Regions from separate parts of the Homo sapiens genome. Here all the other regions are reported to be linked to region 4. The links are microRNA targets in miRTarBase. Many come from high-throughput screens and were not tested one by one. Region 4 holds a microRNA gene; each other region holds the end of a gene's coding sequence.

The links. The annotated mature microRNA hsa-miR-6133 reads UGAGGGAGGAGGUUGGGUA and lies in region 4 at 2,298-2,316, opposite strand. An mRNA with a match to its seed (bases 2 to 7 or 8) in the 3' UTR can be bound and repressed. Matches are read on the target gene's strand: a 7mer-m8 pairs with bases 2 to 8, a 7mer-A1 pairs with bases 2 to 7 and ends in A, and an 8mer does both.
Region 1: the mRNA of SCIMP is a reported target of hsa-miR-6133. Seed matches in the 3' UTR shown: 7mer-A1 at 2,497-2,503 and 8mer at 2,451-2,458.
Region 2: miRTarBase lists BICDL1 as a target of hsa-miR-6133. Seed matches in the 3' UTR shown: 7mer-m8 at 1,292-1,298, 7mer-m8 at 1,432-1,438, 7mer-m8 at 1,731-1,737, 7mer-m8 at 1,735-1,741 and 8mer at 1,739-1,746.
Region 3: the mRNA of TRIM67 is a reported target of hsa-miR-6133. Seed matches in the 3' UTR shown: 7mer-m8 at 1,132-1,138, 7mer-m8 at 1,136-1,142, 7mer-m8 at 1,267-1,273, 7mer-m8 at 1,847-1,853, 7mer-m8 at 2,913-2,919 and 7mer-m8 at 3,863-3,869.
Region 5: the mRNA of SH3BP1 is a reported target of hsa-miR-6133. Seed matches in the 3' UTR shown: 7mer-m8 at 761-767.
Region 6: the mRNA of HHIP is a reported target of hsa-miR-6133. The part of its 3' UTR that is shown has no 7-base or 8-base seed match.

What each region holds. Positions count from the first base shown.
Region 1 is chr17:5,207,037-5,211,140 of GRCh38, forward strand. SCIMP (SLP adaptor and CSK interacting membrane protein) reads right to left here. Exons shown (of 5, transcript NM_207103.3): 5 at 1,884-3,919. The coding sequence ends at 3,765. It overlaps ZNF594-DT (ZNF594 divergent transcript), which reads left to right. Exons shown (of 6, transcript NR_152840.1): 2 at 2,714-2,859. Among named protein-coding and RNA genes, the nearest start is that of ZNF594-DT, 17 kb to the left of the region's middle. RefSeq lists a silencer at 1,393-1,572.
Region 2 is chr12:120,092,532-120,096,635 of GRCh38, forward strand. BICDL1 (BICD family like cargo adaptor 1) reads left to right here. Exons shown (of 10, transcript NM_001367886.1): 10 at 469-1,963. The coding sequence ends at 630. RAB35 (RAB35, member RAS oncogene family) reads right to left here. Exons shown (of 6, transcript NM_006861.7): 6 at 2,568-4,104. Among named protein-coding and RNA genes, the nearest start is that of RAB35, 22 kb to the right of the region's middle. RefSeq lists enhancers at 266-909, 910-1,553.
Region 3 is chr1:231,215,007-231,219,110 of GRCh38, forward strand. It overlaps TRIM67 (tripartite motif containing 67), which reads left to right. Exons shown (of 10, transcript NM_001004342.5): 10 at 369-4,104. The coding sequence ends at 434. Among named protein-coding and RNA genes, the nearest start is that of FSAF1, 24 kb to the right of the region's middle. RefSeq lists enhancers at 1-456, 370-479, 2,171-2,670 and a silencer at 1,580-1,639.
Region 4 is chr7:133,289,267-133,293,266 of GRCh38, reverse strand. MIR6133 (microRNA 6133) reads right to left here and starts at 2,386; the gene lies at 2,279-2,386. All of the region lies in intron 3 of EXOC4 (exocyst complex component 4), which reads right to left.
Region 5 is chr22:37,654,961-37,659,064 of GRCh38, forward strand. It overlaps SH3BP1 (SH3 domain binding protein 1), which reads left to right. Exons shown (of 18, transcript NM_018957.6): 18 at 312-1,157. The coding sequence ends at 724. It overlaps PDXP (pyridoxal phosphatase), which reads left to right and starts at 3,763. Exons shown (of 2, transcript NM_020315.5): 1 at 3,763-4,104. The coding sequence starts at 3,823. It overlaps PDXP-DT (PDXP divergent transcript), which reads right to left and starts at 3,417. Exons shown (of 6, transcript NR_109952.1): 1 at 3,295-3,417. RefSeq lists enhancers at 3,320-3,389, 3,400-3,449, 3,638-4,104 and a silencer at 3,640-3,949.
Region 6 is chr4:144,737,286-144,741,389 of GRCh38, reverse strand. HHIP (hedgehog interacting protein) reads right to left here. Exons shown (of 13, transcript NM_022475.3): 13 at 1-3,626. The coding sequence ends at 3,433. The region is part of intron 1 of LOC124900791 (a long non-coding RNA gene); the gene reads left to right. Among named protein-coding and RNA genes, the nearest start is that of HHIP, 93 kb to the right of the region's middle.

The DNA.
Region 1 (4,104 bases), not on the chromosome of region 4:
GATTAGAAAGGAGGATGGAAAGTAACCAGGTAATTATAATTATAATATATAATAATTATAATACAAAGGGAGAAGTATTTCCATAGGGCCAAGTATGGGAGCTGTGAGAGCTCAGAGTTCATTGATTCATTCATTCAACCCAGTTGATTATTCAACATATTTATTGAGCATCTACAATGTACCTGGGCACTGTGCTAGGAACAGGGAAAACAGTAGAGGAAAGAAGGACACATTCCCTGCCCTCATGTTGCTTTGGGTCTAGTGGAGGAGAGAGACAGATAAGCAATAATTATAACATGCTAATGCTATGAAAGGAGAGCATCCAGGAGGCACCAACCCAAGTTGGGTCATGAGGAAAGGGTAGCCAAGATGAAATGGGAAGGATCCAAAGGTGGGGAAGAATGTTTCATACAGAGGAATAGCGCTGTGCACAGGGCAAGAGGGACCATAGTGAAGGTCATTTTATTTTATTATTATTATTTTTTTTTTGAGATGGAGTCTTGCTCTGTCACCCAGGCTAGAGTGCAGTGGTGCAACCTAGGCTCACTGCAACCTCTGCCTCCCAGGTTCAGGTGATTCTCCTGCCTCAGCCTCCCGAGTAGCTGGGATTACAGGCATGTGCCACCACACCCGGCTGCGTTTTGTATTTTTAGTAGAGACGGGGTTTCACCATCTTGGCTAGGCTGGTCTCAAACTCCTGACCTCATGATTCACCCACCTCGGCCTCCCAAAGTGCTGGGATTACAGGTGTGAGCCACTGCGCCCGGCCTGTGAAGGTCATTTTAAGTGGCTGGAGCAAAAAACTTGGGCAGAGTGGAGGTTGCAAGGGGGTTGGGGGAGAAGAGTTTGGCAAAAGATAATCAGTGACCAGATCCTGACAAATCTTGTAAGCCATGTTAAAGAGTTTGGTCTTTTTCTGGGGTTAACGGGCAAAGAGAAGATTTAAGCAAAGGAATGAAGTGGTCAGATGTTCACTTTAGGAAGTCACTGGGTGCCATGTAGAAAGTGGACGGCAGGTGAGGTGCCAGAGGCAGGGGAGCAGTCAGGGGGCTGTTGATATTCTCCTGGCAAGCGCTGGCAATTGTCTGACCTCAGAACAGTGACGGAGAGACGTGGACTCATTGGAGAACCACGTGGGAGGCACAAGTAACATGGGGAGCTCTGGAAACAAAGCAGTGTGGGGAGAAGGATACTAGTTTCTGACTTCAGCAACTAAGAAGATAGTAGAGCACAAGACATTTGGGACTGGAGGTAGGTCATCAGTTCCTTTTGGTGTTTGCTGAACTTGAGGGGGTGTGTGGGGCAGTCACAACGAGATGTCTTAGAGGCAACCCAGCTGGGGAGAAAGAGCTCAGCTGAAGTCAGAATAGAGGGGGCAGCTGGGCGTGGTGGCTCACACTTGTAATCCCAGCACTTTGGGAGGCTGAGGCAAGCGGATCACTTGAGGTCAGGAGTTCAAGACCAGCCTGGCCAGCATGGTGAAACCCCGTCTCTACTAAAAACAAACAGAAAATTAGCCGGGTGCAGGCGTGTTGGCACACACCTGTAATCCCAGCTACTCAGGAGGCTGAGGCAGGAGAATCGCTTGAACTTGGGAGGGGGAGGTTGCAGTGAGCTGAGATTGTGCCACTACACTCCAGCGTGAGTGACAGAATGAGACTCAGTCTCAAAAAAAAAAAAAAGGAGGGGCCCACTGAGCTCATGGACATTGGTGAGATCACTCGTGAGTGTTGGAGGCAGATGGGCAGAGACACAGGGACAGAACCTGAGGAAGACCAGCATTGAAGAGATGCTTCAGAAAGAGTGGGTGGCCCCAAAATGAGACGGAGACAGGAGGAGAACCAGGAGAGGGTGGCGTCCCAGAAACCAAGGAAGAATCAACATTTGTCTGGCATTTGTTTTTAACTTTTGTCATAGTCATGGAGGGTTTACAGAACATTTATAAGACGAAAGCATGTGTTTGAAACACTCCAATCCTTTGGCTTATTTTTGTTCTATAATTTGGGAAGAGTCCTCTCTTTGGCTGGTGGGATACCAGAGTCCCATAAGGCCATAGTTAGATAACTACTGGCCTAACATAAGGAGGGTTTATTTATTTATTTATTTATTTATTTTTAGATGGAGTTTCACTCTTGTTGTCCAGGCTGGAGTGCAATGGCATGTTCTCGGCTCACCGCAACCTCCGCCTCCCAGTTTCAAGCGATTCTTCTGCCTCAGCCTCCCAAGTAGCTGGGATTACAGGCATGCGCGACCATGCCTGACTAATTTTGTATTTTTAGTAGAAATGGGGTTTCTCCATGTTGGTCAGGCTGGTCTCGAACTCCCGACCTCAGGTGATCCGCCCACCTTGGCCTCCCAAGGAGGTATTAATAGCAAGGTGGAAGCCTTCATAGAGTCTGGAAAGAGAGAACCAGGGAGGAAGCCCAGGTCCCCAGTGCTCCAGCGTTGATTGAGGGAGAAAGCTTGAAAATGGGAGGAACACATTTTCCCATCTCTTGAGGGAAATCTGAGTCACTCTCAGGCCTTTCCAGGTTCACAGTGCTCTCTCTGCAAGGCTGTTCATTTGCCAGATTTCCCAGAGGTCACTTAGAAACCAGCATCTTGTGAGTATAGTTAGAATGAGTCAAGTCCTAGGGCTCTGGCGATCAGCTAGAAGGAATTGATGAGGTCTAAGAGCCTATAAAGCTGACTCGGGCCTTGTTGACCCCATTAGGACACTTGTTTAACAAGACATCTGCCCATGTCCCTGGCCCATCTCATTGGCTGCAGCACATCACAGTGGACCTTCTGCCTCCTCCCAGATGCCCAGGGACAGTGATCTGGAAGGAAGGGGCTTGAGGCTGTTTTCCTAGAACTCGAGTAAGTACTGATGAAAATGATGGACAGGGGATATTAAGCCCCCTGAACTCTCATCTTGTATATGCCATTGTTACATGCCCCTTTTCTTTCCTGTTCCCCATGATTTGTCCTGGGGGAAATGTATTTTTCCTGTAGCACCCCCAACACACCTATTGCAAAATGATGCTTCTAGGTGTAAATCAGAAGGTAACTTTTGTCCTTTGTCCATTGTTACAGTACAACTTGCAAGCACGGGGAGAAAACCTAGGTGAAAACTCAAATCTCTATGGTCAATTTGGCCTACATCATATAAAGGCACTGGGGTTTGCAGGGTGTCTAGGTGGGGAGGGTTCACGAGAACAAAAGGTACTCCCTGCCCTTGCAAACTCGCGAGATGTGGTGTGGGAACCTGGGCACGAGAGCACTCAGCTGTAACTCACCCACAGCCTCACAGTGCAGGAGGTGGGTGGGGTGAGAGGGTAAAGACCAGCATGCTTGGTGAGGGCCTTGCTGGGGATGGGAGCCTGGGAGGGTCTGCACAACCAAATGCTGAGATTTAATATCACTCAGAACCATGCAAACCAAAGGGAATGAAGGGGGAAAGAATGCCAAGAAATGAGTAGTTTCCCACAGGTGGGAGCCATGGAGCCCCGTGGTCCTTCCCATGGAAAGTTTCCTCAACAGCACAAGGCTGACCCCTCTAAGTCCTCAGAGCCGAGCACCCATGTGTCTCCTCTGGCTGCAGTCATCCGATCGCAGGGGTGTCTTCATCTAAGGTTTGGGAAGTGCTTTATCTTATAGAGCTTCATAAAATCACCACTGGCTTTCAGGGCCCAGAGACCTACTGAAGTTCAACCATTCTTGATTGTTTTAAAATAAGTTGTGTGAACCCTCTTCAGTTTTGCCAAAAAGAAGAAATGGCTGTTTCAAAATGATGCTTTTTCAGTATTTGCAGGGATTTCAACATCGTCATAGTCATCTTCAGGCTCAATGTAGCTTGGGATGGAAACAGTCTTCTTATTTTTAACTTTATTTACCAGTGAGTATGTAGCGGGCGGCTGACTTGGGGCTTCCTGTGGGGCTAGAATACACAAAAAGCTCCTTAGATGCAAAGCTGTCATGTGTTTTTATATTTTTGAAGGCAGTGGCTCAGCGTGATTTTCACGTTTCAGTGATCTTCCCACTTCTAGTGGGCCAGATCCCCATTTTACAGAGGAAATTTAGACACAGACCTGACAGAGCCTCAGGATCACCCAAGTGAGTAAC
Region 2 (4,104 bases), not on the chromosome of region 4:
GGAGCCCCTGAGGCCAGGCCATTGGGCTGGGGAGCTGTTAAGCTGAGGTGGCCCTAGGGCCTGCCGGGGCTGGGGGTGGCAAGCCAAACCGGAGGCACCAGCCAGGCCCACAGGACACAGGAGGCAGAGCCGTGAGGCCTGGTCAGAGCAGGTGGAGTGCTAGTGTGGAGACTGCAGGGAGAGACCACCCGAGCCATCAGCTGAGGACTGTGGCGGCCCAGCAGGAGTAACACTGTTGAGGAGAACCCAGCCCAAGCCTGAGGAGGCTGGAGGTGCCATACGGCTCCTGCGTGCGCCTGGTGTCTTGCCCACGCTCACCGCTTTCTTGGTCAGGGCAGTCCCGGCTGCAGCCTCTCACTCATCACATTCTCATCTCTCATCTGTCTGATGTTCCCACCTCCCTGTCCAGCCCCAGGGTTAGGTGAGAGCAGCTACTCAGTCCTGGCCACTGTCCCCTCCCCTCTGCAGGATGACATGCACAGGGTCATTGACCGGCAGCTGATGGACACGCACCTGAAAGAACGGAGCCAGCCGGCTGCTGCCCTCTGCAGGGGCCACAGCGCTGGGCGGGGGGATGAGCCCAGCATCGCTGAAGGCAAACGACTCTTCTCATTCTTCAGGAAAATTTAAGTTGGGAGGAGTCAGGCCACCAAAGATGGGTGGACTGGAGGCAGCTGGAAAGGCGGTGCAGGCAAGGCCTCCCCTGCAGCTTGCACCTCAGCAGCTGCCCTGCCCCTCATGCTAGGGCCCCATGGGTCCGGGAGGGCCTGCTCCCTTTCGTCGGTGGGGATGGAGACCTAGAGGTGGGGGCCTGCCTTGGCCACTGAAGGCTTCCCTTGGCCCACCGCCTGGCCAAGCCCACGCCTGGGCTTCTCCAGGACCACGTGCTTGAGCAGGGTTAGGCCACCTCCCAGAGGGGCCCCTTGGTGTTGGGCTTTGCAGCTCACACCCAACAGATCGCAGCCCACCCCCAGGCACTGCTGCCTCCTTGATTTTAGCAAATGGGGAACAGAAGGAATGGAGGCCCTTCTCTGCATGCCTCAGGAGGCCTGAGCCCCAGGGGCCTAGACCTGTGGGGGCAGCGGGCCAGGCCTGAGCCTCCATTCCTTCCCCAGCCCCTGGCCCAGGGTCAAAGGAGAGATGGCAGCCCCTCCCCCGCATGCATGCACCTCAGCTGGCAGGAGGCCAAGCCTCTGGCCGCAGGGTCTAAGAGCCGGGGCTTACCCAAGCTCAGCTGAGGCCACCCGAGCCCCAGGGAGGAAGAAGGCCCTGTCCCCCTGTCGCCACTGCTCTCCCTCCCAGCCTTCAGTCTCTGCCCCTTAGCAGGGCCTGGCCAGGCAGAGTGTTATCACCAGTCATCTGCAGGCTTTAGCCATCCAGCCCTTTCCCCTGCTCAGGGCTGGGGTTGGACGGGGTCTCCTCCTCCCACAGCTCCCTCCTCCACCCCTCACATACATACATAATTTCTTGGCCTAGCCAAACAAGTCCAGGCCACTGAATGGCACCAGAGGGGTCTGTGGTCAGCCACCCCACCTTGAGGGCAGCACAGGCACCACGGGGTGGAGGGGAGGGGGAGGCTGCCGGAAGCCTCCAGATGCTGCCTGCCTGCCTGCAGAAGCCTGCAGTGGCTGCTGCTCCTGCCTCTGCAGCCGCCCCTCCTCCTCCACCCAGGCCCCAACTCAGAGGCTCCGCGGCCCGGCCAGCCCTCAGCTGCTCACAACCGATTCAGTCTCCCTCCCTCCCTCACGTGGGGAAAGCACAGCAGGGATGCGCGGCAAGAATGTACCTGTAGATGTGTACATACCACAGTGCTGTAATTTTGTATGTAGCAATCATGTAAATACATGTATGGATTTTATAATATACATATATAAAAATCTATAAAGGCATATTTTTAGAAAAACAGCACACCACTGCTTCTTTTGAAAATAGTCTGAATAAGAATAAAATGAATTTCTACAGAGCTTCCTGCCTCAGTCTCTGGGTATTTGCGGGGGGCGGGTTTGGTCTGAATGCAGCTGACATGTCAGACTCACCACTGGCTGCTGCTGGAGAGGTAGCAATAGTGGTTCCCCTGCACCCGGGCCACCTCAGATGCTGGTACTTACTTAACCAAGGGATTTGGCCAGGAAGGGCATCCTCCCCTGCCCCTCCCGCCTGGCACTGCCCCCTGCCAGTGCTGCAGCGTGCCATCCGCAAGGCAGGCCTGCCAACGCTGCTTCCCAGGCCAGCAGGGCCCTAAAGCTTGGCAGAAACTTCAAGCCAGAAAGAAACCACGCCAGGCAAAGGCTTCCACTGCATCCTTCCAGGCATGTGGAGGATAAACACGGAGCTTCCCCTGGCATCTTACCACATGTGCTCCCAGTCCAACTAGGGGGAGACTCAACCCTGGCCCACCTGTTCATGGAGAAAATGGACCTGGCTTCTGGAAGTGTCCCAAGGGCCTCGACAGGCTCCTGTGCAAGACTTAGGCCAAGAACAGGGAAGAGCAGGACACGGTGGGTGGGAAGAAGCCACGGCCACTCAGCACATCTCTGGAGGGAGAGCAAACAGACCCTGGAAGAAAATTTGGCAGCTTGAACCTTTATTTTTAGTATTTTTTTAAAAAGCATAATTAGAAACTTTCAATACAGAAATACTCCTAGCAAACCATTGAAAAGTGGTGTTTGTTTGACAGGAATTTCACATCAGGTCCACTAGGACGTCGGTCCAGCCCTGAGTCCCCACCCCCACCCCATAACCCCCATTCATGCGTGTAACAGTGGGACAGGCACACTGTCATGACCAAAATCACCCCAATACCTGGGGCTGATGTCCAGCTGCCAGAAGCCATGGGGGCTTCTAGCCTGGGCTGGAAGCCCCCAGGAACCCCCCTCTTATTGCTTGAATTTGCAAGCACACCCTCGCTGGCCTCGCCTGATCGCTCAGAGGCCAGCATGCCCCCCGCCCACCGGCACAGGAGCCCCAGGCACCGTGCATCCTCAGGGCCCGTGGCCAACCAGGACAGTCCCAAGGACGGAGACCCCGCTTCTGCTCCTGCCGCCCCCGCCCCCGACCAGATGAGGCTGCCTGCTGGTCAGCCCTGCAGCCCCCTCCACAGCACCCTCCTTCCCAGGCCCATGGGGCTCCCCCACCCCATCCCGTGGCTCCAAAGTGAAGGCCTGTCCCAGAATCACCAGCTTTTGGCAGTTTGGGCAAGTGGAGAGTCGGTGAGAAGAAACCCCCAGTTTTTATTGATTAAAAACCCATCCACAGTGCTAACATGGAAACTGCAGTGTGATCTGTGATGTGATTGTCCAATCAGGGCTCTCCCTGGAAATCGCCTAGGAAAGGAAATCTAAGGAAACACATCCTGGTGTTAAACTCGGTTCTTCCCAGGTCACTTGATCCCTGTAGTGGGAGGGGAATGAGGTGTCCGGGCTGGGGGTCGGGGAGCAGTCATCAAGTGCAGATGACCCTGGTTGTTCTCCAGGGCACTGGGGCGTGTCAAAACTGGCCGCCCCAGCCATTCCTTCCCACCCGCCAGGAAATCCTCTTGCTACCTTTGTCCTGACAAAGGTTAGGACAGTGACCAGGGCCTGTCCATGGTCCCCACCCAGAGGCCCCAGGCATGCACTCCCCACAGTGCCCGAGGCTGCAGTGTAGACTCCTGACCTCCAGTGGGAGGCAACTCGGACAAGGGTGGGAGGCCCCTTCTCCGCTCCCACCAAGAAAGCCCAAGAGTCCAGCCCCACAATGGCAGGAAGCCATTCATTTTTTTCTAAAAACAGTGGACACAAGTGGGGTGGCCTCAACTTTTGCTGCTGTGCCAATCAAACCTCAGGGAAAGAAAATAATTGTGAGGAATTTAATTCACTTGATTTGGCTTCATTTTCTTGATCTGTTAAAATAATCCTCCCATAGCCCCCCTGCCAGCCCCATCTCTGCACGAACCTACCCCGACCTTTCTGTTGGAACTGAAACCTGTTGGTGTAAATGAGAAGCCATGGCTGCCCTGGGTTTGGAGCTCAGAGGCATCTAGAAGGCAGGACAAGAAATCTGTTGGCCAAAGGGCAAGACCTGCCACCTCTGTGGAACTGCAGGGCCTGCCTTGAGACCAGGTTC
Region 3 (4,104 bases), not on the chromosome of region 4:
GGGTTTAATAGGAAAGGAAAGAAGGTCATGGCTAGAAAGTAGACACAAATATGTAACCACGGGAGCCAGTGCGTGAGAGCCGTGCTCCTGTGATGGCGTCTACTTTGCCCAGCTGTGGCAGCTCTGGCAAAATGAGGAACCAGTCAGCTGGGTGATTCTTATTATGAGGAAAGAGGTGCAAACCAACATAGCCTTTAATTAGGAATACTGGGGGACGTAATATTCAACAGTCCACAGCAGCCCTGAGCTATTGCATGGATGGCCCTGGAGCCAGCAGGGGATCCTGCCGGTGTCTGCGGTGCTGTCAGAGCCCTCAGGGTCCCTGCGGCAGCCTCTCCCACCCTCACTTGCCCTGTCTTCTTTTCCAGGTCACCCTGCACACAGGATTGGAAGTGCCGACTAACCTGGGGCGGCCAAAGCTGTCAGGCAATTAGCCCCGCTCCAGCTCGGCACTGTGCCTGTGACAGTGACATTCACAGGCAAAACGCCCACCATTCTCACTAAGCTCAAATAACCCACAAAAGCAGGATATGCAAATCATGGGTGCAACCTGGCAGCGTGGAGTGTCATAGAAACACATTTTCTTGGGGACGCAGGGAATGGGTCCACGGGCCATGCTCACAGCTGCCACTGTCAGTGGCAAAGGAAGGTACGTGTGTCACCCTTATTCCACCCAGACATTACGAACACTCCCCAAGAAGGACCTTTCTCAAGGGAGTCAGCATTCGGGCTTCATGTCTATGTTTCCTGCCATCTGTTTTCAAAGCTTGTCTTTTTTTGGAGGGAGAGGAAGGTAGACTTTGAGACTGGCCTCCTGAGAGCGGCAGTCAGGAGCTGCGCTGTAATCCCACGCCCCGGGTGTTGGCCCTCCGTGGGGACCTTGCCTCCTCAGAGTCCCGAGATTGCAGATTCTCATCATGCTGAGAAAGTTATCTTTTAGCTTCTTGGTCCTAGAGTCTTTAGTAGCACCTGCCACTTGCAGACCCAATGCAGGATTGATAGAAAGGGACATTAATCATTCATGCTTGACTTTTGCCTCTCTCACTGAAGTGTTAGAACCTTTTAAAATGGCTTCCTTTATTAATCAGCCAATTGTGTTCTCTCTCTCTCTTCCTCCATCCTTCATTTCTTCTCCCTCCCTCCTTCTCTTTCTCTCTTCTTCTCTCTCTCCTTCCTTCCCTCCTTTGCTCTCTCTTTCTTCCTTTCCTCCTTCTCTCTTACTTTCCTCCATCCCTGCCTCTTTCTTCCCTCTTTCGCTCTCTTTCCCTCCCTCCTTCTCTCTCTCTCTCACACACACACAGGCATGACAGTCTCCTAAAATTAATTCACTCAGTTCTTAGTTCTTAAATCCACGTGAAAACACAAGAATTTTAACAACTATGTCATAGGTCTTCGCCTGGTGATGGCTCCTTTCTGAAACTGGCAGCCCAAGAAGTTAACTGAAAATGCATCCAGATTGCTCTTCTGAGCTGAACCACTCTCAGACTCATAAGCATTTAAAATGGGAGACCCTGGGAAAGCCTGTTCTAGTCAGTCCACCCTATTGTCATTATGAAAGCATCATGAACACAAGTGGCCCCTGTGGCAGGCCGGGACGGCTCTGCCCTGATGCAGTGGGCGGGATCTCTGGGGAAGGCAGGAAATAGAAGGGCAGTATCAGGTACCTTGTCTCCCAGCTTCCCACTGTGAGACTGGGTGTGCCGAGTCTGACCTGCCAGGGCAGGACTCTGGAAACACCAGGCTTCTCCCTTGAGATCCACATTGATTCATCCACACCTCTCAGAGACAGCTCATGGCAGGGGTTTTGAGCCTGCCAGGCTCTTGTTCCCAGGGAACCCTTCCTCTCCTCCCTCCTCTCATCTTCCCAGTCACCTGCCACCTCCAGCTCCACCTGGTAGTAACATTTCTCTCTCCTTTTAAAAAGAATATATTTTGTCAAGCATTTTATTTCTGAGGCTGAGAAGTGACTTGTCAATTTGCTGGACTGGATTTTTATAAAATTCGCCCATTCACCAGCACCAACTGTGCGTCCTTGGTTCTGCCTTCCTGTTCAGACACCGCGCCTGCTTTCTGAGTAACTGCCTGCCGGAGCCATGCAGGTACCCCCCCTCCACTCAGCAGGCCCGACAATCCTACCTCAAAGCTCATGCTCTTGGTCTGCAAGGCTGCTTGGTCCGCTGTCTCTGCAGATGTGGCCGGCAAGGCCAGCTGCCCCGTCTCCAGGAGCTGCTCGGTGCTGTGTTGCAGTCTCTGCTGCGGAGCCTGGGAGCTATCTGCTTCATGGAAGTCTAGGTCTTGCCTCTTCCTTGTCATCTCACCAAGCGGTTTCTGGGTCTCCTCCTCCCATCCCAGAGCCCTGTCCAGAGCTCTTGGTGGTGACACACAAGACCTGGGACCCTGTGTCCTTGCCCGCACCTCTGCCTCTGTCTCCCATATCCCTGCAGCTTCATCCTTAGCCATAGCTCTGGGTGGCCTTTGCTTGGAGCATGGAGACGATCCCTAAAGATTGAGGATGAAGAGGAGCCACCACTTTCCTGGGGCCAAGGAAGCCATCAGCTTTGGGAAGTGTCTAGCTCTCTTCTGAAAAAAAAACAGGCCTACACCCTGCCCCCAGAATGAGAGTGGGCTAGGCAGGGCTGCCTGGTGACAGCAGCTTCTCACAGGGGAGCCCTGGGGAAGGCTGTGGAGCCTCCACCATCACCACAGCCCAGGTCACCAGGTGGCCCCAGCTCTGCAGAAGAATCGCCCATCATTGGAGCACAAGTTGCCTGGGGCTACCCTGAACCTAACCCCTTTGAGGGAGCAGCATCCAGGTCAGGAGAGAAGTGGAAAGTGCAGGAGGGTAATGCCCTCAAATCCGGTGGCCTCTTTCAGAAAAAAGTTCCCTGAAGTCCAGAGAGGTGCAGCCAGGACTCCCTCCTCCCCACTGCCACCCTGAGCTTGGGGGCTGGGATTCTCCCTTTTCTGACTCCTCCAGGAGCCCAGAAGCAATACGGCCGATGCCAGGGACAGCATCCAGCTCTCCTTCACAGACACCTCTCCTGTCTTCAGCACAAAACACCTTCAATGTTCTGACTTCAAAGAGAACGACAGGTCCGTGCCACACACTTGTGTTTTTGAGGGATCAGAAAAGTGAAGAAGGAACTTATCAATTCCTCATGGCCAGGAAGGTCCCGGGTTTCAGAGTAGAAATGACAGACAGGTCATGGAATTCTCATCCACCATCGAATTCCATAACACGTTACATCATGGTGGCACATTTGTACATACATATAAATGATATCAAGATGAGGCTTTTGTTGGGCTGGCTGAGGAGTAACTTGGTGTAAATCTATCAAGCAGTTTCAGTGAAAAAGGAATTCAAAGTAGTTTAAAAATGTCGAGTTCCATTGCATTGTAAATAGTGCCTCTGTAATGTGGTTCTGCAGTTGTTCTTTGCTAGTGAGCAAGCTTGGTCAAAGTGTATGCCTTTTCCTTTTAAAATTAATCTCTTCCGAAAATATCCACTAGCACCTCACTGCATACATAGCATCCCAGCTCCTAATTCAAAGCAGGGGAAGGTATTTCCCCAAAGCCTGCTTTTCCTCTCTCTGTTCTCCTTGGGAAAATAATGATTCCAATTAAAGAGGACACCAGTAATACTGACCCACAAGGTAACTGACCTAAACACTATAAAACTGTATATATTTCCAGGCTGCATCTTCAGCCTGATATGTACTTTGTAGTTGCAACAGCGCCCTAGGTGCCCTATGGCCCACCAAGTTTGAGGAGGGTGGTGCTTTCCGGATTGAGCCTGGGCAGGCTCTGTGGAGCTCACCAAGAGAGCTGGGGGCAGGCCCACCCTCCTCTTTGCGCCCTTTCTCTCCCTCTTGGTGCCCCTGCCCTCCGCCCCACCACAGCACTCTCAGGAAAGGATCAGAATGCAGGATCTTTGTGTATTTCTTCCAGGGATATTTGCATTTAAGCCTTAATTCTCATTGCAAGCGAAAGGCTTGGTCCCCCTGGGAAGGCGGGTTTCGGCACCGGTGGGCAGGTGGTTCAGTGTCAAGGAGGCTGCTGCTGGTCCCATGGCCACCTGCTGGCTTTGAGGTAGTGAGGGAGGGT
Region 4 (4,000 bases):
ATACAAAAGACCAAGTTGAAGATATCTCCAACCTTTTAAGTGCACTTTAAATCCTACCTCCACGAAATTTTTGCATATTGGGATATACAAATCATTGTTTATTGGGATATGCCAACTCCTCAGAACATGCAAAGTTATAAAATGGTAATATCAGAAGTGGAGTTGTTGAAAGAAATAAGCTAACAAATGTAACATATTTCAAATAGTACCAGGACATAGTAAGTGCTCAATACATATTAGCTATTGTTATCATTGTCATTCATTTAATTACTACGAAAAGGGAAGGTTAGACACTAGAGAACCTTGCCATTAAGAAATAAATAAACAAATAAATAACCAGAGAAGAAAAAACAGAACAAAGCTCCCACAAAAGAAATACCTTTTTCTCTCTGTAGTGGTATTACAGTCTTCCACATAGTCACCCATTTAGCTAATGATTTGTGAACTCTGACTGTATGAGCTACACTATGCTGGGAACAGGGCAGACAAAAATAGGTAAGACACAACCACTATCCTCAATGACCTACCACACAAACAAAAGGAATTATATTAAAATGAAACATATGAGCTTATGGAAACATAAAGAAAAGCACCTAGCTATCTGAATATCTGGGACATTCAGAGAGTTGATGAAATTTGAGCCAGGTCTTAAAAAAGAAGTCATCACTTTCCAGGCAGACAGTATTGGGAATCAGTTCAGGGAAATACAAGGTCAATTAAAAAAGAAAAATACATCACATCCTTATGCACCAGCAACCAGTAACTAGAAACCTTAATAAATAAATAGCTACTGTTTTAAAAGACAACAACAAAAAAATGAAATACCCAGAAATAAATCTAACAAAATACATATGATACCTCTAAGGACTATATATATTGCTAAGCATTATCAAAGGACACAAATGAAGATTTTAATAAATGAAAGGAATATTAGGTTCACAGATAAGAACACAACATTGCAAAGATAATTCTCTTAAATTCAATCAATTAGCTATTGAAGGTTCAAGTGATTCTCCAGCCTCAGCCTCTGAGCTAGCTGGGATTACAGGCATGCACCACCACACCCATCTAATTTTGTATTTTTAGTAGAGATGGAGTTTCACCATGTTGGCCAGGATGGTGTCAATCTCCTGACCTCACGTGATCTGCCCACCTCAGCCTCCCAAAGTGCTGGGATTACAGGCGTGGGCCACCATGCCTGGCCACAAAGACAATTTTGAATAGCAAGATGAGAGAATCTCTTCACCTCCTATCAAGATGTATTATAAAGTTACAGGAGTTAAAACAGCATGGTTTGGGTGCAGGTACAAATAACACCATTAAAACAAAATAAAGAGCTCAGAAACAGATCCATGCATATGTGATAAGTTGCTGTGTGACCAAAATAGCATCATGAATCAGTAGAAAAAGGATTCAATAAACAGCCTGAGCCAACAGACTATATAGAAGAAAGATAAAATTAGATCCTCAGTTAATACCATATATAAAAATGGACTTTCGACGGGTTAAAGAAGAAAACATAGGAGATTCTCTTAGAACACTGGGATGGAAAAAAAATTTTCTTGCATCAAAAATCACATAACAGGCCGGGCAGAGTAGCTCACGGCTGTAATCCCAGCACTTTGGGAGGCCAAGGCAGGCAGATCACTTGAGGTCAGGAATTCCAGACCAGCCTGACCCAACATGGTGAAAACCCATCTCTACTAAAAATGCAAAAATTAGCCAGGTGTGGTGGCACACACCTGTAATCCCAGGTACTTGGGAGGCTGAGGCAGGAGACTCACTTGAACCTAGGAGGCAAAGGTTGTGGTGAGCTGAGATCACACCACTGCACTCCAGCCTGGAAAACAGAGTGAGCCTGTCTCAAAAAAAAAAAAAAAAAATCACATAACAAAAAATACTGAGAAATTGAGAAATTGTTTTGCATTACGATTTTTAATTTCTTTATAACAAAGACACTATAAACAAAGGAAAAAGACAAATCCCCAATTGGGAGAAGATATCTAACAGACAAGAAGAATTAATATCTAGAATATATAAACAACCAAACAGAAAACGAAACAAAACCTCCGGAAAATGTGTCTTACAAACTCACTCTTTTCTGGACATGACTGTTCTTCCTCCCTATACCACGCCCCCTGCCCCAACCAGATAGTTTTATTGATGATTATCATACCCAACCTGGCTCAATCTAGCTCCTAACCCTAGATTTCTGAATTATGAAAAAAAAAAAGATTATTTTCTTCTGTAAAGGTGGAAAGATGTAGACATAGCCTATGCCCCCTGTTTTCCCTCAATACCCAACCTCCTCCCTCACACATGAAGAGACCAGTCTTCAGCAGAACAATGAAGAGGGCATGCAGAGAAAACACACAGGTGACATTCCACATACATGCCTATTCCTTTGGCAGACTGGTTACATGAGTCAAACAATTATTTTTACTTAAGCTAGCTAGAGTTGAATTTCTGTAACTTACAACCAAGAATTTAAAGAAGTTATTTAATGAGTCTTGAGGAAAATATGTCAGAAAAAAAGGGACAGTATTCATTATTGATTAGCCCTTAAGTAAATAAATTAGCCCTTAAGAACAAAGACCGTAACACAAAAATCTGAAATCCTAATATGAACATAATTAACACAGAAATAAATTCTAACAACCTATTTTAATCTGTGGCACTTACTTAAAAGCAAGCCCACTCCAAAAAATCATGATTCAAATAGATGTATATTTGCTACACAAATGTATACTTGCTTATCTATTCTGATTGCTGAATCTTGAGAATATAGGACAAGTATGCATTCATAATGCATAAATCAACACTAAAGGTGAAAAGTAATTTTTTTCTATCAGACACCCTATAGTCATTATTATTAAAGAAGCTGCCACTTTGAATAAGATGCTGAAAATAACCAATTCTTTTGTCATTCCCAAGAGTCAATCTTTTTTTGTTGTTTATTGGGGTTCTTTTTGAGACAGAGTCTTGCTCTATCGCCCAGGCTGGAGTACAGTGACCTGATCATGACTCACTGCAGCCTTAAACTCCCAGCCAAGGGCCAACCATTATTAATCTCCTTCCACTGTGGAAATTGACCATTCAGTCTTATCACATAACCAGGTTTTAATATCTGATAGAATATCATGGCACTTCTCACTCCTTGGTTACCAAATTTCCTTTAAAAAGCTTCTTATGAAGGACTTTTAGCAAAATTCTTCTTGGAAGTCTGAATGAATTAGAACCACTTAGAGCATTTAATCTGTGTCCCTACCAATTCCCCTCAGTGTTTTTTCCAGTGTTAAAGCCAATCTAATTTGGTGAAACAAAGGTAAAGGACTTTCACCTACTGTGGGGAAGGAAAAAACAACAATTCAAATACAGCCCATCTGCTGCTCAGAGCTCCTATAGAGAGCTTCCTTAACCAACTCTGAATGAGATGGAAGTGGGACTGGGTGGGTAAAAGGGAAGGGAGAAAGAGCAGCCCTCTCTAAGAGCCACAGGCCTTGGGAAAGAGGATTATTAGGGAGCAAACTCTGTATTTCTACTTTTTATTCATCTTCTTGACGCTCAGCCACATGAACCACCAATTGCATCCTTCTGGGAACTTTCAGCAATTCAAAAAGGAGCACACACAATGGACTAAGATGGAGGCTAAAGGCTAGATTGTGGAGTACTCTTGGTCAATAAAGTTGCTTCCAGTATTAGTCTCCCAAAATTTTATTTCTTATCAATTTCAAGGAAAAGAACAAAGCCCTAATGTAAAAATTCCTTCAAAAAATGTGTGGAACACTAGTCTATAAATCTTCAGAAGTTCTGTCTCATGTAGATTTCATTGTTTAAAATGGGATTCATTAACTATCTTCCTCTGAAGCTAAAAAACACCTCTCATTACCATTCTAACCTGATTTAAGTACTGGTTTCTTACTATTATATTTCTTGCCATTGTTACAAAGACAGATAATACATAAATAATAATTACCTACCATTTCAAACACTGGAATTA
Region 5 (4,104 bases), not on the chromosome of region 4:
AAAAATTCAAAATAAATGGGCAAGATAATTTCAGAGAACAAAAAGTCCTGCGAAGAAAATACATCTGGAAAATGTGACGGAGCAGCTGGGGTGGGGCATGGGGTGGGACTCTAACTAGGGTGCTCGGGGAGGGCCTCCAAGGGGGCAAAGGGCACAAGGAGAGGCCTAGACGATGAGGAGCCAGCCGCAGAAACGGTGTTCCCGGCAGAGGGAACAGCAGATGCAAAGGTTGTGAGGGGGCACGGAGCTTGGTGGATTCACCACAGGCCACGTGGACACTCAGCCTCCCTCACCCTTTCCTTCCTCAACAGCCAAGCGCCCGGCGCCAGCCCGGCCCACCATGCCGCCCCCCCAGGTCTCCGGCTCCCGCTCCTCCCCTCCAGCCCCGCCCTTGCCCCCTGGCTCTGGCAGCCCTGGGACCCCCCAAGCCCTGCCCCGACGTCTGGTTGGCAGCAGCCTCCGAGCCCCCACAGTGCCACCCCCGTTACCCCCCACACCCCCTCAGCCTGCCCGGCGCCAAAGCCGGCGTTCACCAGCCTCCCCCAGCCCGGCCTCCCCAGGTCCAGCCTCCCCCAGCCCAGTCTCTTTGAGTAACCCTGCACAGGTGGACCTGGGGGCTGCCACAGCAGAGGGAGGAGCCCCTGAGGCTATCAGTGGGGTCCCCACTCCCCCAGCTATCCCCCCTCAGCCCCGCCCCAGGAGCCTTGCCTCAGAGACCAACTGAGTGGCTGGTTTCTCCCTAAGCAGCCCTCAGCACCCCCTCCCTCCCCACCTGGCCCTCCCAGGACAGCTCTCGCCCCCCACAAAGGGGCATGGGCCTCCAGCCTTTGCCCACAAGTGCCTCAGTGCCCACTGGGTCGGCCCCCATGGCCAGGAGGGCTCAGGACAATCCTCTATTTCCTGACCTTTTCCTCGTCCACCCTGGGCTTGGGGACCCCCCCACCGGACTCTCCACTCTCCGGCAGGTCCTAGGGGAGCCACCGGAAGGAAGGAGAGGTTTGCCTGCTCCTACGGGACTGATTCTTCTCTTGCCGACATGTTTTTTGTAAGGCTGGTAAATAAATTATTTTGGACAAAACTGGAGCAGCTGCCCAAATGATAGTTTTATTTTCTGTCCTTGAAATAAAGAAGCCAATTTTATAAAGGGGAAAACAATACATATTCTTTGCCTCCTTTCTTCCTGTCTGAAGTGAGATCACAGCAGACATTTTTAGAGCTTTCTCTGCACTACATGCTGTGCTGTTCTGTGGATGATTTCCACTTAATCTTCTCCTACTGCAGGAAATACCATTACCTCTTAGCAGTGAGGAGACTGAGGCCCAGACAGAAGTGACCTGCCAAGGTCACACGGCAGTCAGGCAGGGGCCTGGGATTAGAGCCTAGGTCTGACTCCAAAGCCTGGCTTGTCCCTCACATTCTGGGCAATTTACTTAACTTCTTGGTATCCCTTTTCCTCATTTGTGAAACTTTATAACAATTCCCTCCACAGAGGTATTGCTCTCCATTGAAAACCAAAGCACCACCCTTGGCCCACAGAAGCCCCTACCGCTCCCACTGTTTCCTGGACCCCTCACTCTCCTTCCGGGAGGAGGCTGGGAAGCCTCCCCAAGGAGCAGGGATGGATCTGTCCTCAAACCTTCCCTAAATCTGCTCTGTGCCAGGCCCTGAGCTAGCTCCAAGACTTAACCCTACACCCAAAGAGTTCCCAAACAGACAGGCAGAAGCAACCATTAGAATCAAGTGTCTGGCCAGGCACGGTGTCTCATGCCTATAATCCCAGCACTGGGAGCCTGAGGCAGGAGGATCACTTGAGCCCAGGAGTTCTAGACCAGCCTGGACAACATAGTGAGACCCTGTCTCTACAAAAAAAAAAATTTTAATTAACTGGGTGTAGTGGCGTGTGCCTGTAGTCTCAGCAACTAGGAAGGCTGAGGCAGGAGGATCGCTTGAGCCCAGGAGTTGGAGGCTTCAGTGAGCAGTGATCATGCCACTGCACTCCAGCCTGGGTGACGGTGTAAGACCCTGTCTCAAAAACAAAAAAAATCAAGTGTCATTGCACTGGGAGCCCATATTAGCCAAGTTAGGGGTGGCCATATAACCTAGACTCATGGTATGGGGTGGGTGGTTAAGAACGGCTTCCTGGAGAAGGTGATATTTAAGGGAAGTCTTTCAGGAGCTGACCTGAAGGTGAATTTTGTTTATTTTTATTTATTTTATTTATTTTTTATTTTTTGTTTATTTTTTTTTGAGATGGAGTCTCGCTCTGTTGCCCAGGCTGGAGTGCATTGGCACGATCTCAGGTCGCTGCAAGCTCCGCCTCCTGGGTTCAAGCAATTCTCCTGCCTCAGCCTCCCGAGTAGCTGGGACTACAGGCACCCGCCACCACGCCTAGCTAATTTTTTTCTTTTTTTTTTTTTTTTTTTTTGTATTTTTAGTAGAGACGGGGTTTCACCGTAGCCAGGATGGTCTCGATCTCCTGACCTCGTGATCCGCCCACCTCAGCCTCCCAAAGTGCTGGGATTACAGGCGTGAGCCACCGAGCCCGGCCCTGAAGGTGAAATTTTTAAAGGAAAAAGGAACATTCAGGCCAAGGAGACTATCTATGCAAAGGCCAGGAGCAAAAGGCTTAGGGCACTTGGGGAATAGGAGCTAGTTGAGCTTCCAAGGTTGGGTACAAGGTACAGTTTTTCCCAAGTCGTTGGAGCTCCAGTTGCTCCTGGGGGTCACAGCCTTATCTGAAGTTGGCAGACAACTTCAAAACTGTGACACCACAGCTCACAATTCATTCATCCCCACACTGCAGACCAGTGGCTCCTCAAAGGTCCCAAGACCTGTGGTTGCTTCCAGATCACAAGGCCTCCTCCCTAAGACAGGGACCCAGCCAACCTGGGTCACCCCATTACTATTCTGGGCAATTGGCCACGACCATTCTGGATCCTGCCCTCCCGGGGCGTGCTGCAGTGACAGCCTACCAGCCTCTAGCCCAGTGCTTCCCTACCCTATCCTAGCTCACGGTAGAATCCCTGGAATTAAACCAACTAACCAACAAACCAAAAAATGCCCAGTCTTCACCCAAAACACTTACATGAGGATCTGTCCTGCTACACATCGGTGATTTCAAAAGCATTTGTCAAGACATTGAACTGTACATTTAAGATCTATGCATTTTACTATATGTAAATGATATCTGAAAATAAGTTCCCAGGGGACTCTAACGCAGTGTGAAGAACTACTGGTCTAGACCGAGGGCTCCAGCACCCAAGAAGACACCATGTGCCTCGTACCCCATCGTACACACACGTTTCTTGGGACTTCGCTCTGAACTGGAGCGTCCACGATTCAGGGGGCAATGAGATTCGACCCAAAGGCAGTTCATTTAACATCTGTTTTTCTCCCAGCAACCAGCTCGCCTAAGCTTCTGATTGGCTGGAGGGCACGGGGCCTTTCGCTTCGCGTTTTGTTTGTAGATTCTTATTGGTTAAGAAGAGCGTCAGTCTCCCACCGCGTAAGAGTGTAGTCGGCGTTGAAACTCGGCGGCGACTGGTCCAGCAGAACCAGGGACGGGGAGAAGGATCAAGCTAGCTCTTCATTGGTCCCTTCCCCTCGGTGTTGGCCACGAATCCGCCCCTCTCTCCAAGTTCCGTTAGCTCGCGGCTTCGCTCCTCTCCCAGACTCTCGCCCCCATTGGCTGCAGGCCACGCCGTCGCCCCGCCCCCCGGTCCTTCCAGCGCGCCAATTGGCGGCTGCGTGGAACGTGCCAGGGAGAGCGCGCCGTGCCCGCGGAGAGAGCGCGGCGCGGGAGGCCGGCGGCCGGCCGGCTGCATGGCGCGCTGCGAGAGGCTGCGCGGAGCGGCCCTGCGCGACGTGCTGGGCCGGGCGCAGGGGGTCCTGTTCGACTGTGACGGGGTGCTGTGGAACGGCGAGCGCGCCGTGCCGGGCGCCCCGGAGCTGCTGGAGCGGCTGGCGCGGGCCGGCAAGGCGGCTCTGTTTGTGAGCAACAACAGCCGGCGCGCGCGGCCCGAGCTGGCCCTGCGCTTCGCGCGCCTCGGCTTCGGGGGGCTGCGCGCCGAGCAGCTCTTCAGCTCCGCGCTGTGCGCCGCGCGC
Region 6 (4,104 bases), not on the chromosome of region 4:
AAAAGAAACCAAAAAAAAAAAAAAAACAGCAAATGGATTAAAATTGTTAGTATACTATTTTGTAATTATTTTCAAAGAAATAAATAGGGAAGAAGTAACTTCTCTGGGGCATGCAAATGACAAAGAAAATAGTTTTCTATTTAGGTTGTGTGTATATATTGTATGTGTTGGTTTCTCTACTCTTTATGAGATACTCATTAATCTGAGAAACCTTCCGAGTATTCTTCATGATAAAATAAAAAAATATATTTTACAATAATTACATTGAAAAAAATCCAAGAAGAAAAGTTATGGATGGAAGCACTTACTTTTAGCCATCACTCAATTTCTTAAATTTTTTCTCTCTTTCACTTAAAGATCTGCCAAATTGTGTTCCTTTTATTACCTTAAATAACTGTCAAGAAAACAAGGTTCTATGAACCAGGACAACAGTGTGGCAGAAACAGTAGTAGAAAGGTTATTTCCAACCATTTAAAACAACTATAACATCATTTCACATTCAACTGACAACCGCAGCTTAAACTTGAGAATGGACAAGGGAATAATAATATACATTTTTCTTTTTCATTATTTCGTCTTTATCTTATGCATCAGTATTCTTACGAAGGACCTTTTTTTCTTCCATTCGAGACTGTGTGCTTTATGAACTGAACAGATGTTGCCTTTCATGTGATTAAACAATAATTTTTTCCTGCTCATACTTCTTAACCAATTCCTACCTGCCTCTCATCATGAATCATTGAAGATAATTCTCCAGTCATGCATTTAAAAAAATCTACTTGAAAGAAAAGGTCAAAGAGAATTTTTGAATTGACCACTTAATTTAAAATATGTTGCCATCAATTAGCCAGTGCTATCTACTTTTCTCCTAAGAACAGAAAGAAATGACTCCAATGATTTTACTTTCTTTGCTTGGCTTAATATCCGTGGATCTTGCTATCTTCTCTTGAGAAGAACTTGGCCTTTCATTCTAATGACTCACAAAAGAAAAGGCAATGACACCTGGGGCACATATGTTTTTCTAAGTCACTTGAAAATCTTTCACTTGGGAAAAAGCTGTATAAAAAATCTGGGCCTGGTCAACTTAATATAGATATTTTAAAACAGTAGAACTAATGGCAATAGAACACCTTTTATTTTGGGGAGGAGATGGAAAGTTTAAAGATGTAAGAAGTAATGCTTGATTTTTTTAGATTTTACTGAATATATAGCAGTATCCTTATTGTTTTCAGGGAAACTAGGAAGAATTGGAGAATGTGTAATAAAACTGCACGATTTGACAGATTTAGACAGCTGGCTCCCTCACAAGAAGTTCACATTTTGTTAATGTCACCCACGTTGAATAAGGGACAATTAGATGGTAAGGTCCATTTACAAAAATGGTTGTCAGGACATTTTTTTTTAATTGTAAAACTTTCTGTGATGGAATTCAGTAAAAGGGCTATGAAGAGAAAGCAATGGAGACAAAAGATTGCTATTAACCTACAGATGCAGGCTACTGCATGGTTCATTGCAAGATTTGTCACACTGTTGGGCCAATGAAGTGTTAGTGTGACTAGAAGGGACCACCCCTTTTCTGGGGTAAGAGGGCAATTTGGTCTCCATGCTCATTTAATCCTGAGACTTCTTTGAATAGACTGTCAATTGAATCTAAATTGTGCAAAATTATGCATGCACTTTTTAATGCAGGCTATTGTTCACTAAGCACTGAACCAAGATTTCTCAACCCATTTCCATTTGGCATGAGGTCACTTGAAACTTAAGTAATCATATATGGAAGACAAGAGCAGTGTACTTAACCAATCTTTCTACATTGTGGCTTCTATATAAATGCTTACTGGGCTTTAATTGCAAATCTCTCACCTTAAAACAATAGAGAAATACTAGCTACAATATATTTTTTAAATTGAGGCTTGTATTCCTAAAGGTAAGGAGAAGGTTTAGAAAGTCAGCTGGCGCTGCATAATCTATACTGCTCTACAATTTAGATTCTAGAGGAATGGATGTTTACAGAAGAAGGACAGCCATAGTGGGTGTGCACTTGTCATGAGTAGACGTGTTTTTTCACTAGTGCAAAGAGGCCTTATATTTTGTTAAAATCCAAACGTGGAGAGCTGGCTTTGAAAACCATGAAGAAAAATATCTACTAGACTTTTTGCAGTTTTAAGTCAGAACATGTCATCTCTGTAAAACCCTGAACAGAACATTTACAGAAAATTTATTGATACATTAGCCAAAGAGTATTTTCATTGAGTTCTGAAGGAACACGTACATTTAAAGTCATATTTGGCAAGAATTATTATGTTAAAAATTTGTACAGGTGACAGCTTACATAGCCAAGATTTTTAAAAACAAGTGAGCTCTTCTCCAGTGAGGTTCGATTCAGTGGAAATCTGCAACATTCTAATAACATAGACTCTGACAGTCTTGCTATGGTGAAAAGCACTTTACAAATGTTTAATGCTGGAATTTTATAAGGATTGGCTGTTTTCTTGCTTTTTCATCCGTCGTTAATGATTACATGTTGGCACAAGGATACCTTGCTAGATTAGATCCACAGCACATTAAAGACTGTTTGCTTTCTCACTCCCCTTCTTTCCAATTAAGTTGGTGAAAAATGTAACTTTAGTGTTTTACAGGACAGGGTAAAGGTGTTTCATCTAGGTGATGTCTATATTATAAAAATAAAATAAAATATATAAATATGTAACACAAACCCAGTGCCTATTGTTAAATAAAATATACAATAAAAGCAGACCTTTTAGGAAGATTGATTTTAAAATATGCTATTATGATTTAATTATAAAACACTTGAAAACAATCTTGAGATTAAGATGAAATAACCAGATTTCTCAGCCAATAAAAAGGTAAGTGTGTAGCATTCTGTAACTGGATACACTGACAAAAATGAAGATTACAATTTTATATCAAGTTGCTCACTTAGAAATTCATCAGGGAGTTCTGAAACATTCTCTCCTAGTATAGTACTTTAATATAAAAATATTGCCTTTTTTTTAATTAGATCCATCGGATTGCACAGTACTGTTTCAAAACTCTATTAAAGTTGACTTTAGTGATTACAGACAGAAAATTCCTGGGAAGTCAAATAATCTCTTCTAGTAACATAAAAAATCCATTATCAATTTACAATGGAATTTCTGTGTAAATTACTTTGCATAAGGAAGTATATATTTTAAAAAATCATCTGTTATGCAACAACGCATATAGGGGTTATGAGTATGTGTATGTGCATATGTGAACAAACATGCTGACATACACACAGAGGATCTGCACATTTCTGGAAATTATTTTTAAATTAATAAAAGAGAATGAAATCACAGGAGTGTGTAGCAGGATAACAGTCTTTTTTTTTTAATGACAGGATAAAAAATAAATGCCCATTGGAATAGAATATTCAAACAGTCCCAGAAACTATACAATGTAACTTGTTAGATCCAGCAAGTAAGATGTCATGTCAATGATCTGATCAAGAATACCTGCCCTGGTCACTCTGCGGATGTTTCTGTCCACTTGTTCACATTGAGGACCAAGATATCCTTTTTTACAGAGGCACTTGTTCGGTCTAACACAGACACCTCCATGACGACATGCTGGCTCACATTTTGCTGGGAGAGAAAAAGAGCAAGAACATCACACTCTCATTCTGTATGTCAGAAACAGGACTGAGCATGAGACCAACAAATATTTGCTGAATAAGGGAAGCGAGGGAAAAAAGGAGGGAGATAGTTACAAAATGATCTGAAAGATAAATATGCAAGTAGGAAACAGGCTTTTACACCCATAGTTATTTGGAGACCTGAACTCAGCAGAGAATGAGAGACATTTCTAGAGAAGCAGAGATCATGAGAAACAATTGCAACCCTTTGCAAAATTAACTCTATTTAAAATGAAGATTTTAGTCCTTTGAAATCTCTGCTTCACAGGAGCATTCTCTACAGAGGGCCTCCCAAGCTCTATGTTCCCATTCCTTCAAGGTAGGATCTCAACATGGGAGTGGCCCAGCCTGAGGGGGAGACACAGAGGCTCAAGCAACTCCAGTGCAACAGAAAGGAACAGTCAGTTTTGGATTTTGGTTGGGTGGAA